Homo sapiens: one gene and its partners. The protein of the gene in region 1 purifies or fractionates together with the protein of each later gene. This does not show direct contact. Each region holds a gene or a part of one and is shown in the gene's direction. Other genes may lie near its edges.

The links. The genes of interacting proteins can lie anywhere in the genome.
Region 2: the proteins of FAM177A1 (region 1) and UFSP2 purify together in Homo sapiens (affinity purification with mass spectrometry; 3 studies listed by BioGRID and IntAct, with this or other methods). This does not show direct contact.
Region 3: the proteins of FAM177A1 (region 1) and RIOK1 purify together in Homo sapiens (affinity purification with mass spectrometry; 2 studies listed by BioGRID and IntAct, with this or other methods). This does not show direct contact.
Region 4: the proteins of FAM177A1 (region 1) and NAPG purify together in Homo sapiens (affinity purification with mass spectrometry; 2 studies listed by BioGRID and IntAct, with this or other methods). This does not show direct contact.

Annotation. Positions count from the first base shown.
Region 1 is NC_000014.9:35,070,197-35,073,810, forward strand, and holds part of FAM177A1 (protein FAM177A1 isoform 1 precursor), read left to right. Parts: intron 1-3,614.
Region 2 is NC_000004.12:185,399,037-185,402,078, reverse strand, and holds the end of UFSP2 (ufm1-specific protease 2), read left to right. Parts: intron 1-1,355; exon of another isoform or gene 1,356-1,600; coding exon 1,601-1,687; 3' UTR 1,688-2,061; coding exon of another isoform or gene 2,062-2,062; 3' UTR 2,063-2,301; coding exon of another isoform or gene 2,302-2,509; 3' UTR 2,510-2,542; downstream 2,543-3,042. Other genes in the region: ANKRD37 (ankyrin repeat domain-containing protein 37), read right to left, coding at 2,302-2,509. UniProt on the Homo sapiens protein: Thiol-dependent isopeptidase that specifically cleaves UFM1, a ubiquitin-like modifier protein, from conjugated proteins, such as CD274/PD-L1, CYB5R3, DDRGK1, MRE11, RPL26/uL24, TRIP4 and RPL26/uL24.
Region 3 is NC_000006.12:7,403,194-7,406,807, forward strand, and holds part of RIOK1 (serine/threonine-protein kinase RIO1), read left to right. Parts: intron 1-747; coding exon 748-834; intron 835-1,224; coding exon 1,225-1,362; intron 1,363-1,724; coding exon 1,725-1,828; intron 1,829-2,055; coding exon 2,056-2,162; intron 2,163-3,614. UniProt on the Homo sapiens protein: Involved in the final steps of cytoplasmic maturation of the 40S ribosomal subunit. Involved in processing of 18S-E pre-rRNA to the mature 18S rRNA. Required for the recycling of NOB1 and PNO1 from the late 40S precursor.
Region 4 is NC_000018.10:10,539,413-10,543,026, forward strand, and holds part of NAPG (gamma-soluble NSF attachment protein), read left to right. Parts: intron 1-349; coding exon 350-459; intron 460-575; coding exon 576-642; intron 643-916; coding exon 917-987; intron 988-3,614. UniProt on the Homo sapiens protein: Required for vesicular transport between the endoplasmic reticulum and the Golgi apparatus.

The DNA of each region.
Region 1 (3,614 bases):
AATTTTACCTTAGATGTACCTTAAGGTACATGTTGGCCAGGATGATCTCGATCTCCTGACCTCGTGATCCACCCGCCTCAGCCTCCGAAAGTGCTGGGATTACAGGCATGAGCCACCGTGTCCGGCCTATAACAATATTTTTTTTTTCTTTGCGTCGGAGTCTCGCTCTGTCGTCCAGGCTGGAGTGCAGTGGCATGATCTCGCCTCGCTGCAACCTCAGCCTCCCGGATTCAAGCAATTCTCCTGCCTCAGCTTCCCAAGTAGCTGGGACTACAGGTGCATGCTACCACACCTGGCTAATTTTTGTATTTTTGGTAGAGACAGGGTTTCACCATGTTGGTCAGGCTGGTCTCGAACTCCTGACCTTGTTATCTGCCCACCTTGGCCTCCCAAAGTGCTGGGATTACAGGCGTGAGCCACCACACCCGGCGGAGCTACAAGTTAATGGACAATCACATACATTGCTACTGCATATTTATAGGCAAATTTTCTAGTGTGAAGTTTTGCAATGTGAATGAAGAGCTTCCTAAATGATTATATTTTTGGCCTAGTTAATTCCACCTTTAGGAATTTAAGCAGATTAAGTAAATAGGCTTAATATTATAATTATATTAATATGATATAATACATGTGGAAAAATAGGATAGAGAAAATATGTAAGGGACAACAATGTTGTAAAAATAAGTGTATGCTCAGGAAAAGACTGGAAAGGTACCCTGATATTTGGATAATTATTTCTAGGTGGTGGAAAATGGGTGAATTACATTTTTCTTATATTGACCTCCATTTTCTTTCTTTCTTTCTTTCTTTTTTTTTTTGAGACGGAGTCTTGCTCTGTTGCCCATGCTGGAGTGCAGTGGTGCGATCTCAGCTCACTGCAAGCTCCGCCTCCCAGGTTCACGCCATTCTTCTGCCTCAGCCTCCTGAGTAGCTGGGACTACAGGCACCTGCCACCACGCCCGGCTGATTTTTTGTATTTTTTTTTAGAGACAGGGTTTCACCGTGTTAGCCAGGATGGTCTCGATCTCTTGACCTCGTGATCCACCCTCCTCGGCCTCCCAAAGTGCTGGGATTACAGGCGTGAGCCACTGCACCCGGCCGACCTCCATTTTCTAAGTGTTCTACAACAAATAAATATGACTTTTATAATCTGAAAATAAATTGTTTTAATAAGAAAAGGTAGTAGGTCTTAATAGGGAAGGAAGAGATACTTATATTTTTGGAGGAAAAATGAATCATTTTGAGTTTTAGCACTATATACAAGAAGTCTTGAAGACACAAGATCTTGTCCCAGTTTTGCTATTACTGGGATAGTCTAGGTGGTGGAATTCTGGCATAGACTCTAGCTACTTCTTTTTTTTGATTCAATCAAGTCAATGTTCAAACAAAGGGCCCTATATATTCATTCTGTATAGTTGTGTGGGATGATGATAAATGTTATTCAGGAATTATTAACCTGTTTTTCAGCTCTGGAGCAGATTTGATTCTTTGGTAGTCATAGCTTGGATATTATCAATTATTCTCGCCAGAAACAACCCCAGGAGAATTGGTCCACTGAGAAACATATTTACAGTTGAACCTTGAACAATGTGAAGTTTAGGGGTGTGACCCCCCAACTACCCTGCACAGTTGAAAATCTGCCTATAACTTTTTATTCCCCCCAAACTAAATTGCTAATAGCCTAGTGTTGACTGGAAGCCTTACCTAGAGCATAAAGTCAATTAACACATATTTCTTATGTTATATGTATTATATGCTCTATTCTTACAATAAAGTAAGCTATAGAAAAGAAAATGTTGGCTAGGCGTGGTGGCTCATGCCTGTAATCCCAGCACTTTGGGAGGCTGAGGTGGGCAGATCACAAGGTCAGGAGTTTGAGACCAGCCTGGCCAATATAGTGAAACCCCATCTCTACTAAAAATACAAAAATTAGCCGGATGTGGTGTTGGGCACCTGTAGTCCCAGCTACTCGGGAGTCTGAGGCAGGAGAATCACTTGAACCTGGGAGGCGGAGGTTGCAGTGAGCCGAGATCGCAACATTGCACTCCAGCCTGGGTGACAAAGAAAAGATAAAAGAAAGGAAAGGGGAAAGGAAAGGAAAAAGGGTTAAGAAAATTATAAGGAAGAGAAAATATATTTACTATTCATTAAGTGGGAAGTGGATCATCATCATAAGTCTTCTTCCTCATTGTCTTCACATTGAGTAGGCTGAGGAGGAAGAGGAGGGGTTGGTCTTGCTGTGTTAGGCATGGCAGGAGGTGGAAGGGGAGGCAAGAGAGAAAGGCGTACTTGCTGTGACTTCATGGAAATACGTAGTAATTTCTGTCTGACTGTTTTACTTTTTTATTTCTCTAAAAATTGTTTTAGGTGGTAACAGTTCTTTTCCCACCATTTGCTTTAGTTTCATTGCCTGTATAGAAGGGTCCATGTTGTAAAAGAAGTCAAGTAGTCTTGAAAAATCGGAGCCCTTCTGCCAGATTGTCTAATGTCAGTTTCTTTTCTGGCACTGCTGCTTTTACATCTTCTTCATTATCTGGCAGTGGTTTGGAGGCACTCATCTCTATCAAGCCATTTTCTGTTAATATCTCTGGTGTTGTGTCTGTTAGCTCTTGAATTTCTCCGAGATCCAAATTTTGAAACGCTCCACCCTCCACCCCCCCTTTCCTTTCATATCTACCATATCTTTCATGATTTCATTGATTGGCTCTGTCGTAAATCCTGTGAAGATGTGCACAACACTTGGGCACAGTTTTCTCCAGCAGAAATTTGTTTCGTGTTGATGTCTTTCACAGCTTTTTCTATAACAATGGCATCTTCAGTGGTGTAATCCTTCCAGACTTTCATGATGTTTTCTTTATCAGGGTTCTCTTCTTCTTCTTCTTCTTCTTTTTTTTGAGACGGAGTCTCGCTGTCACCCAGGCTGGAGTGCAGTGGCGTGATCTTGGCTCACTGCAACCTCCATCTCCTGGGTTCAAGCAATTCTCCTGCCTCAGCCTCCCAAGTAGCTGGACTACAGGTGCACGCTGCCATGCCCAGCTAATATTTTGTATTTTAGTAAAGACAGGGTTTCACCATGTTGCCCAGGCTGGTCGCAAAATCCTGAGCTCAGGTAATCTGCCCGCCTCAGCCTCCTGAAGTACTGGGATTATAGGCGTAAGCCACCACACTGCCCAGGGTTCTCTTCTATGGCATCAACAATGCTTTCCATAGAGTACTGTGTGTAATGAGCCTTAAAGGTCCTTATGACCCCTGATCCAGAGGCTGAACTAGAGATGTTGTGTTTGGGGGCAAGTACAACACTTTGACACCTTCAGTGTTGAACTTGTGGGGTTCTGGGTGGCCAGGAGCATTGTCCAATAACAAAAGAATTTTAAAAGGCAGTCCCTTATTAACAGAATACTTCCTGACTTCAGGGACAAAGCATTGATGGAACCAATCCAGGAAAAGGGTTCTTGTTGTCTAGGCCTTGACAAGTACAGACAAAAGACTGGTAGCTGGTGTTTATCTTTTTCCTTTAAGGCTTGGGGGCTAGCAGCTTTATAGATAAGGGCAGTCCTAATCATAAACCGGACTGCATTTGTACAAAATAGTAGAGTTAGCCTATCCCTTTCTGC
Region 2 (3,042 bases), on another chromosome or scaffold:
GTGCTGTGGTGGCCCCTGCCTTGTAGAAACAGTGAAAGCCGCACTGCAGGTAGATCAGTGCGTCCAGAGCTAGGCGAAGAGGTGAGGCTGGAAGGACACACCAAGCTCAGTCAGAAAGGGTGGTCTTTGTGAACCAGGCATTTCGATTTTTTCTTAAAGGCAGGGAGAAGCCTTAATTATTTTCATCATCAAATTTCTCTTTTCTGGTTGACTCAAGGGGCTCTGCACTACATGGCATTATCTAGGTAAGGTTTCTGAACAATTAGAGTAAGGGATTGTCCCTGATTTCTTTCTCTGAGAATTGCAATCTCCATCTTTGCTAGTTCTATTTCTATAGAACTTTTCAACAGCAGAAACCTCCTTGCTCTATTTGTATACACAAGAAACTGTGCAGCCAAGGTCCTGCCATTAAAACTATTGATTCACTTGACTCCAGGAACCCAGGAGGCCAGAGGAGAGTTCCATCTCTGCCTGACCTCTTTGCCTTCTTGTGGTGCTTTCCTGTTTGAAGTTCCCATGCTGGTCATCTCACAGGAAAGAAGCATGTCCTATGCACTATGTCCCTATGCAATCCCATTCTGACACCCTCTCTACCAATTTCTCCTTTAAAAAATCTGGATCTGGTTACCTGGACAAGGCCTTCATGTGTAAAAGGATCAAAAAAAGGTTAAAACAGAATGAGCCTTTTTTCTCTGTCTGTTAAGAGAACAGATTTTAGGACATTAAATTAATAGAGAAAGTTTTGCTGAAAAAATGAGATGATTAATAGAATGCTGGTTACCTAGGGAGAGTGGGGGATTACCTAGGACTGGTAGAGGATTTTTTACTTTTATCTTGTTTTTTGACAACGTGTATCTTATTAGGAGGGAGTCAGACCGCTGCTTGTCACTCACTTCATGGTATTTTCAGAGTCTCAGCCTCCTTGCAAGGATTTCTCAAAGCATTTAAGAATCATATAATACAGACCAGTTATTGGCTTTTAAGTTTTCTTCTTTAATAAAATAACTCAGTGGCCCTAGGAGAAATCTGAGAAATTTTCATACTCTAAATGAGATTTTGCTTGAAAGTAATTTTCTCTGCTGGCAAAAAGGATTAATACTGACATGAAACATGGGAAGTAGAATTGAGTAACACCTGGAATTTGAAAATGAAAGGGCACAGAGTGCCAGGCAGGGGGCAAGCTGAGGTTTCTCACTACAGTACTTCAATCCTAAGATGCCACTGAATGGTCTCTTACAGTCCTTTATGGACTATTAAGAAAAACAGATTGCTAGTTCAATTGTCACATGCTATCAGTTGCAAGTGGTAAAACTATACATCTCAGAATCAGTAAAGTGTGGTATCTGGAATAACAGTTACAGGTAAATTTTTTTTAATGATTTTTATGATGAATTACATACATAGAATTAAAAGTTCAAAAACCTACCTTAAAGGGTAAGATACGTTACTTTTCTATGCTAGTAGGAATTCAAATCCTTGAATGATAAAGCCATTTAGAGTCTTATTCCAAGGTCCTGCTGACAGAGCCTGATGTCACGATTTCCATGACATAATCTTGTAACTTTGTAAAAGGCTTTCCTTTCCCGTCTTCTCTATCCAGGGCTGGTGCGGATGGAAGGGCCCAGATTTTTGGAACAAGGATGCATACTATAACTTATGTCTTCCTCAGCGACCAAATATGATTTAAAATATCTTGGAGTCAAAGACTGCAGTAGAGTGGTATTATAAATTTGTGAATAAAGAATCAGTTTAATTTTTCACATTAAATCCTGGTTCTAGTTTGACGATTTAAATTATGACCTTTTTCAAAGGTTGTAAATACTGCACGGAGAATGTATTTTTTAGACGTTCCTTTAATAACTTAAAAGACAAAGCATACACAACCAGCATATTATAGGCATGTAAATACATGTGTTCTTAAATGGATCTTCACTTGGAAGAAAGTTTTTCGTCCTTCTCAGAAGGAGATTAGACACAACATATGGTAAAGCCAAAAGCAGGAGCTTATAGATTTGCATGAAATGAAGGCGTTCTTCAGACTTCTTCATAACCCACGTGACATCTGTTTTTAAAAACACGTTAACATTAAAAACTTTTTTTTAAAAAGAGTTTTATCCCCAAACTTCCACCATGCAGTCCCATTTTTGGTCTCTAGACTCTGGTAAGTATAACCAGTACTAAAATGTTAATGAGAATGAAACAATACTACTAGAAATACGAGTGTCAGTATTAAATGGAATAATAAATGCTATGCAAACAAGAGATCACTGCGGGAGGAAAAAAGCAGCAGCTCTGAGTTACTTACCAGCACTTCCTTTTCCCACTGGTATTTTCTACACTTCCGAGACTCCGTTTCTGTCTGAGCACGGCAACACAATCATTCCTGTCAGGGTGTTCACTTGCTTTTATTGTCTGCATACATTTAATTGTTGTAAGAAACTTGGCACAGTCTGGAAATCCACATGACCAAGCGAGATCTTCAGCTGTTTGCCCGTTCTTATTACATAAACTGAAAACAGGATAAAAACGGAGTGAAATGAAACATTGAACTTAAGTCTTTTTTTTTATATCTTACAAGGGAATTTTGGGCTCATACAAATGTTGGTTGCAGAACAGAAGAGGTAAAGGATGCATAAGGAAATTGCATTTTTGGTCACTATTGTATCCTCAGCAACTAACAGAATCCAGCATAGAGCGGGCATTCCAGTTCTGAATGAATGTTAGAATTATCTGATGTTTAATACAGTGTATGAGTACCCAAAGGTAGTCAATGGGAACTATAGAATGGGTTTTCCTGAACCGAAACTGAAGTAGAATACAGTCATAATGAACAAAATTGCACCTCTGATTGCTCAGGATCTGACTTTTTACTTACTCGAACTGAGTATTATTCGATAGCACCAACAACCTAAGTTAACATTTAAATGATTAACACTAAATTATCAATTACGCAAGCATTATTTTTAAAAGCACATGTAACTAAGCTTCAGGAGTCTGATTAGTTTAATCCAAGAAAACATAAAATGTGAAGCCACTGTTTTC
Region 3 (3,614 bases), on another chromosome or scaffold:
AATTTATACTGAGGATAATAAGGAACTGCTAAAGGATTTTAATCAGGAAAGTGACACAATCAGATGGTTATAATGCTCTGTCATGTTTTCGTAGGTATTGGAGTTTTCGACTAATCTTGTTAGGTCGTGAACTCTTTGTTTATCATAGTTTCCTTTTCTTAGTCCAGTTTTGGACACTTTTTTTATATTCTTTGTTTGCACTAACACCTTTTTATCAGGTAAAGGCCTCATCTAGTTGAGATCAAGTTTCCTGAAAATTATGGAGTTTTAAAAAATGTCTTATAACTTTTTATATGGTGTACACAGGTGACACATTGGATAGTGTAGTATTGAGCAAGTACTACTCGTTTTGAAAGTCTTTTGTGTTCAACAAGCTATTAGGTGTGAGTCCAACTATTTTTATTAAGCATTTTTCAGGCTATTCAACACAAAAGATACTTGTGGACCTATCTCCTCTATTTCCTCCATTGTAAGATGCACATTTTTTTCAGTTTAACATCTCTGGAATTGCTTTGGGTATTACAGGTTATGGGATGTAATAGTTGAATTGCTAGTGTTTTATCATTCTCGGTGGTACATAATGGTGCCACTTAAAATAATCTTAGAGTTTATGAAATATTATAATACATTTGAGAGGCCTTGGTGCTATTTCTTAACAGCAATATTAATCTTGGGACCTGCAGTTGTAATTTATTTAGATGCCTTTTCAACTTTTCAGTTGTCCTTTTATTTGTTATAATATCACAGGCTAAACACAGCAGAGATACCATGTCCAGAACCAATAATGCTAAGAAGTCATGTTCTTGTCATGAGTTTCATCGGTAAAGATGACATGTAAGTACATGGAAGGGCTAATAATTGCATTCTCAGAACTGTATTTTTAAGTTCTTTGAGTTTATCCACTATATGAATATTTCCCATTTGAATAACTTATTAATCTTTCCCACTATATTAGTGAATAAGTGTTATCAATGTATTCTACCTTTTCAAGTCTGAAAATGCTTCAGAATGAGGAGCAAGTTAGTCCTGTGTTGGAGGGTGGTCTTATACAGTGTGTTGGGAAAGCATCTATTTGCCGGTACCTTCTTGGTTTATGTGCATTGAGACAGATTGTCCCACATACAGCTCACATGATGAGTTGTAGAAGAGAAGGGCATGTAACAGTATAGTAAGAAGCAAGAAAACTTGTTCTTGGTCATTTTATCTTAGTTCTTTTCATTCAAGGCCTGCACCACTCTTGAAAAATGTCCAGTTATCAGAATCCAAGGCTCGGGAGTTGTACCTGCAGGTCATTCAGTACATGAGAAGAATGTATCAGGATGCCAGACTTGTCCATGCAGATCTCAGTGAATTTAACATGCTGTGAGTGTATTTTGTCTCTTAAGAACTGCCTGTCAGTTGTTTCGTGTCCTTTAAAATGATAAACAAAATCCCAATCCAAGAAGTCACACTAACTTCTGAAGTTTTATTGTTGACTTCCAAATGGTATAAGATAGGATTCCTTTTTTCAGTGACCTTAGTCACCGAATTGACTGCTTGGATCATTAACAGTGAATGGATTTTGGAAATTTTCCCAGTTCCATCTGTTAGTCAAGATTGCCTCATCTTATCTACCTTGGTGATTTTGTGAGCTACTTCCCTTGCTTTTAAGAGTAGAATTTATTTTAAACGAAAAACATAGTAAAGTAATACCATCCCACAGCTTCTGTGTCTCTGGCCCATAGGTACCACGGTGGAGGCGTGTATATCATTGACGTGTCTCAGTCCGTGGAGCACGACCACCCACATGCCTTGGAGTTCTTGAGAAAGGATTGCGCCAACGTCAATGGTGAGTAGAAACGGCAATTTTCGAAACAGCTCATTGGTCTGTTTTGGTTTTGTACTCAGTTAAGCTGTTGGCGTAAAATTTTCTCACTAAATTGTTTGGTGCAGTGATGCTTAAACCATTTGCTGGGAGATGGTATGTAATTTTATCTCCTTGTTTCTCTATAAGGTAGTTGGAATAATAATATTTTTCCTCATAAAAGCTGTCATTAACGTTTTTCCTTCTGACAGATTTCTTTATGAGGCACAGTGTTGCTGTCATGACTGTGCGGGAGCTCTTTGAATTTGTCACAGATCCATCCATTACACATGAGAACATGGATGCTTATCTCTCAAAGGTAAGATGGGGAGAGGAAGGAGGAATAGGAAATAGCAGTACAGGTGCAGTATCTCTTATCTCAAGTGCTTGGGACCAGAAGTGTTTTGGATTTTGGATTTTTTCCAGTTTTGAAATATCTGCCTTGTACTTACCCTAGTTGAGCATCCGAAATATCAAAATCCAAAATCCTCACTGCTCCATTTCACATTTCATTTGAGCATAATGTTGGTGCTCAAAAAGTTTCGGATTTTGGAGTATTTCAGATTTTTGATTTTTAGATTTGGGATGCTAACCAGTAATTGCATTTGCTTGACACTTCTGAGGGACCCAGATTGCATAGTGTAGTTTATTCATTTTGACAGCTTCCTGAGACCTTTTCCTTCCTACTTAACAGATGAAGAATCAAAAATACAGCACAACAGCCAATGGTAAAGCCAGGGGTTTTTTTTTTTTCCTTTTTTTTTTTTTTTTCTTCTCCTGAGTCAACTTGATATCCAAGCTTTTTACTTCAATTATCTGGCAAGATTACATAGACTGTCAAAGTTTGTGAAAGTTTAGCAAGAAAACTGTCAGTTTTTTGGTCATTAATTCTTTTCCCTTGTTTCTCAGGGGCCTTTCTCTTTTTTTCTTTTCTTTCTTTTTCTTTTTTCTTTTCTTTCTTTCTTTTTTTTTCTTTTTTGAGACAGGATCCCACTCTGTCACGCAGGCTGGAACATAGTGGCGCACTCTTGGTTCACTGCAACCTCTGCCCCTCAGGGTCAAGTGATCCTCCCAGCTCAGTCTCCGAGTAGCTAGGACTACAGGCACACGCCACCACACCTAGCTAATTTTTATATTTTTTGTAGAGACAGGGTTTCATCATGTTGCCCAGGCTAGTCTTGAAATCTTGGCCTCAGGTGACCCACCTGCCTCAGCCTCCCAAAGTGCTGGGATTACAGGTGTGAGCCACGACGCCCGGCCTCAGAGGCCTTTCTGAATATAGAATTTTTTAGAATTCTGGTAAAAGACATAATATAAAATTTAATGCTTTAACCATTTGAATGTATGGTTCAGTGGCATTAAGTACATTCACATTGTGGTACAAACTATCACCACTGTCTATCTCCACACCTGTTACATCATCCCAAACTGATATTCTGTACCCATTAAGTAACAACTTCCCATCCCCTGGCAATCACCATTCTACTTTCTGTCTTTGTGAATTCACCTACTCTAGGTACCTCTTATAAGTGGAATCATATAGTATTTGTCTTTTTGTGTCTGGCTTATTTCACTTAGTATGATGTCTTCAAGATTCATCCATGTTATAGCATGTGACAGGATATCTTTTTCTTTTTTTGTTTGAGACAGGGTCTCACTCTGTCACCAGGCTAGAGTGCAGTGGCGTGATCTTGGCTCACTGCAACCTCTGCCTTCGGGTTCAAGCAATTCTACCACCCTGGCCTCCCTGAGTAGCTGGGACTACAGGTGC
Region 4 (3,614 bases), on another chromosome or scaffold:
CAGAAAACCAAACACCGCATGTTCTCACTCATACGTGGGAATTGAACCACAAGGACACATGGACACAGGGAGGGGAACATCACACTCCTGGGCCTGTCGGGGGCTGGGGAATAAGGGGAGGGAGAGCACTAGGACAAATACCTAATGCATGCGGGGCTTAAAACCTAGATGATGGGTTGATAGGTATAGCAAACCACCATGGGACATGTATACCTATGTAACAAACCTGCACATTCTGCACATGTGTCCCAGAACTTAAAATAAAAAATAATTGCATTTCAGATTGTTAACTCTGTTTTTCTTTAATTGATGCATTTGCTGACCTGTCTACTGTATCCTTTGCCCAAAGGAGATGCAGAAACTACCAGAGGCCGTTCAGCTAATTGAGAAGGCCAGCATGATGTATCTAGAAAACGGCACCCCAGACACAGCAGCCATGGCTTTGGAGCGAGCTGGAAAGTGAGTGTGAGATGGACAAGTCTCTGCATAGAAGTCTTGTCTTTTTGTTTTAAAGAGGTCCCTGAAAAACAAGTTTTCCATTTCTCATATAAGACATGTTTTCTTGTCTGATTCAGGCTTATAGAAAATGTTGATCCAGAGAAGGCTGTACAGTTATATCAACAGACAGCTAATGTGTTTGAAGTAAGTTTGAATCTTATTTTTTTCTTTAATTACTTAGAATGTTTAGATTAATAATATATAGGAAAATAGAGAAGTGCAGTGGCTACTTTTAAAACTTTTCCCTGCTCACAGTTGCACGCTATTTCTTTTCTGTTAGAGAGTAGTGAAATGAACTAGCAGCTTTCGTGTTCCCCCCTTGATCCAGTGCCATTACTTCTTTACAAAATAAATATTAGGGGATAAAAACATTTCAACATTAAAGCAGCCAACACTTGTTTTTCTTTGATTCCTTCAGAATGAAGAACGCTTACGACAGGCAGTTGAATTACTAGGAAAAGCCTCCAGACTACTAGTACGAGGACGTAGGTATGTCTTTAAAAACTATTGCTGTGTGTTTAACTATACTTTGAATCCACATTTGGAACTGGAAAGTAATTTGGGGGATAGCTTGTTAATTTTTTGGTATAAGCTGTAGACACACCAGGCCACACAATAGAATATTAACATTTACTAGACAGTAGGCACACTGAATTAGATATTAAAAGATCTGCTGTTTTTTGAAAGTGTAATGCCCAAATTTATCATGCACTGTGCTTTTATTGGTTGAACCCTGGCTCAGCAACATGAAAGGGAACAGTTTCCTTCATCTGTTACTTGGTTGGATTATAATATCTCTCTCAAGGAAAAATAAGAATATTAGGATAAATGACAAAGATGCATAAACACTCACCCATGAAAACTGACAGGTTCTTGACAAATAGTGTCATTATTAGAATATTTACCTTGTTATCGTTTCACATATGACCTGAAGCACAAATAGTTGAACCTCAGAAAGCTAAAATCCTATTGGGATTTCCTTTTGTTTTTTTACTTTATCTCAGTTTACTTTTAGTAAACAATTTTTTTCATTAATAAAATTCTGTCTCAATAATATTTAAGATAAACATCTCTAGGAGATTGTAAGTCTGCAGATATCTTAATTGAAATTTGTCCAAAGCTTCCCAGTAACAGAAAACACCCAAGATCCATTTAATATGTCAAGGAATCAAAATAGAAATGACTGATGAATCTATCCTATCTGAGACTGAATTAAATTTTTTCTTCATGAAGACTGCAGATTCTGAAATACAATTTAAACCGGTCTAGAGTAATATGAGAATAAATTAATCTAGAATTAACTATTAAACAATCTCATTTAGATTAATTTGTTTATAGGACCTTCCTTCACTGAGGAGTATTTTTTTGTCTAAATGGAATAGAAATTTCATTTTGTTTTTAAATTAGGACTTTAATCATGAAGGAAAGTTTAATTTAAATGTCAGTCCGGGGTCATTATCTTTATTCATCTTATTACTTACTCGTCGCTTCCCAGAAATCAGTGAATGAAATGCTAACTCTGACAAATCCCAACTTAAAAATGGTTCACTTTAGTTTCTGAAAGTGTTTGTTACAGCAGCAGAGCTGTTCTTGGTGATGGCGTTATGGCTGTGGCAAAATAGCTGAACTGTGAGGTGATACCAAGGTTCTGACTTGTGAGCAGGGGCCCCATGTCTTAGAAACAGTGTCCTTCATTCTTTTCAGGGCAGCTAGGAGGCAAGTTTTAGCATAGTTTACCTCCTTTCTCTTCTGTTCTCATCTCCTGATGCTCCCCGACAAGACTCCCAGTGCCTTTCTAGAGCGCTAAGCCCCTTACTATAAGACCCCATGGAAGGTGAAGGAAGTGAAGTTGCAGGAAGGGGCAGAAGTTAAGGACAGCCCTGTGTGAAAGTCCAGACTGCATCAGCTCCCCTGAAGTATTTCTGCTTTCCACATCTTCTTTCCTTTTGTTTCTCAAGGTATAGATTATCTAAAGCTGTGTTGTAGAGGGAGTAGCAGGAAAGGAGAGAGGCCAGGATCTTTTCGGGGGAGGTCAGATGAGGAACGTTTTCCAGCTGCCTGTGCATATTCCTTTAGAAAGCTCCACTAGGGATGGGGGCCACCATCATCCTCAAAACATTACCAGTGTTGCCAGTCGGTTTGGACACATCTGATGAAAGCCATTGTTTTAAAGCAATTACTGTGTTAAATTCTTCAAAGCCTCAGCAGAGGGGAGAATGCTAGTTGAGTGAGCAGCAGAAGTGAGAATGCTGCGTAGATGTGCTCAAAGGGCACATTTATAAATCCAGGGCTTTTATTCGTGACTTTGTTTTATTGGTTTTTTTTTTTTCTTTTTAGGAAAAATGTATTTTAAAATGGTACTTTCTACTGTGCTCAACAAAAATGTTATGGAAATATATTTTTGAAGTGTATTAACAATATAAAAATTAATTTAAATTTGTGCAGGAACATGAAGGAATTTGATCTTTTGAAAAGTGTTGCTGGGTATCTTGGTATGAAAAAATTAAGTCTACTGTCATGGTACTTCTATTGGGAACTTAAATAGTGCAGGATAAGAAAAAACATGCAGTGTTTATAGTGATGGAGACATTATTGAGATGATTTATGTGATAATTGAAAATATTAACTATGTGCTTAGATTATTATTTGATTGCATCTGTTGCCTAAAAGAACTAAACAGGTGGTAATTTTATGCTTCACACAAGCAACATCTACTAATAGACTGTGTGGCATGGAGTCTAAAGTTTTATGTTTGTTATATTTAGTTAGTGCACTTATGTTTTTACATTAACATGAGTCCATAAGATGTCCTAATTTAATACTTTCTATGTTAGTGTAGCAAAGAATCTATTTAATATATTAATCTCTTGCTTCTCCTTCAGTTTTGGAGAGTCAAAATTCAGAAGTGATTCGTAGTTTCATTTAGATTACATCTGGGAAAAGTCAGTCCAAGGCCAGTGCCCTTGTTCCTTTTTAGAAAAGGCCTTTCCAGGCTGGGTGCAGTGGCTCATGCCTGTAATCACAACACTTTGGGAGGCTGAGGCAGGCAGATCACCTGAGGTCAGAAGTTCAAGATTAGCCTTGGCCAAATGGTGAAACTCCTTCTCTACTAAAAA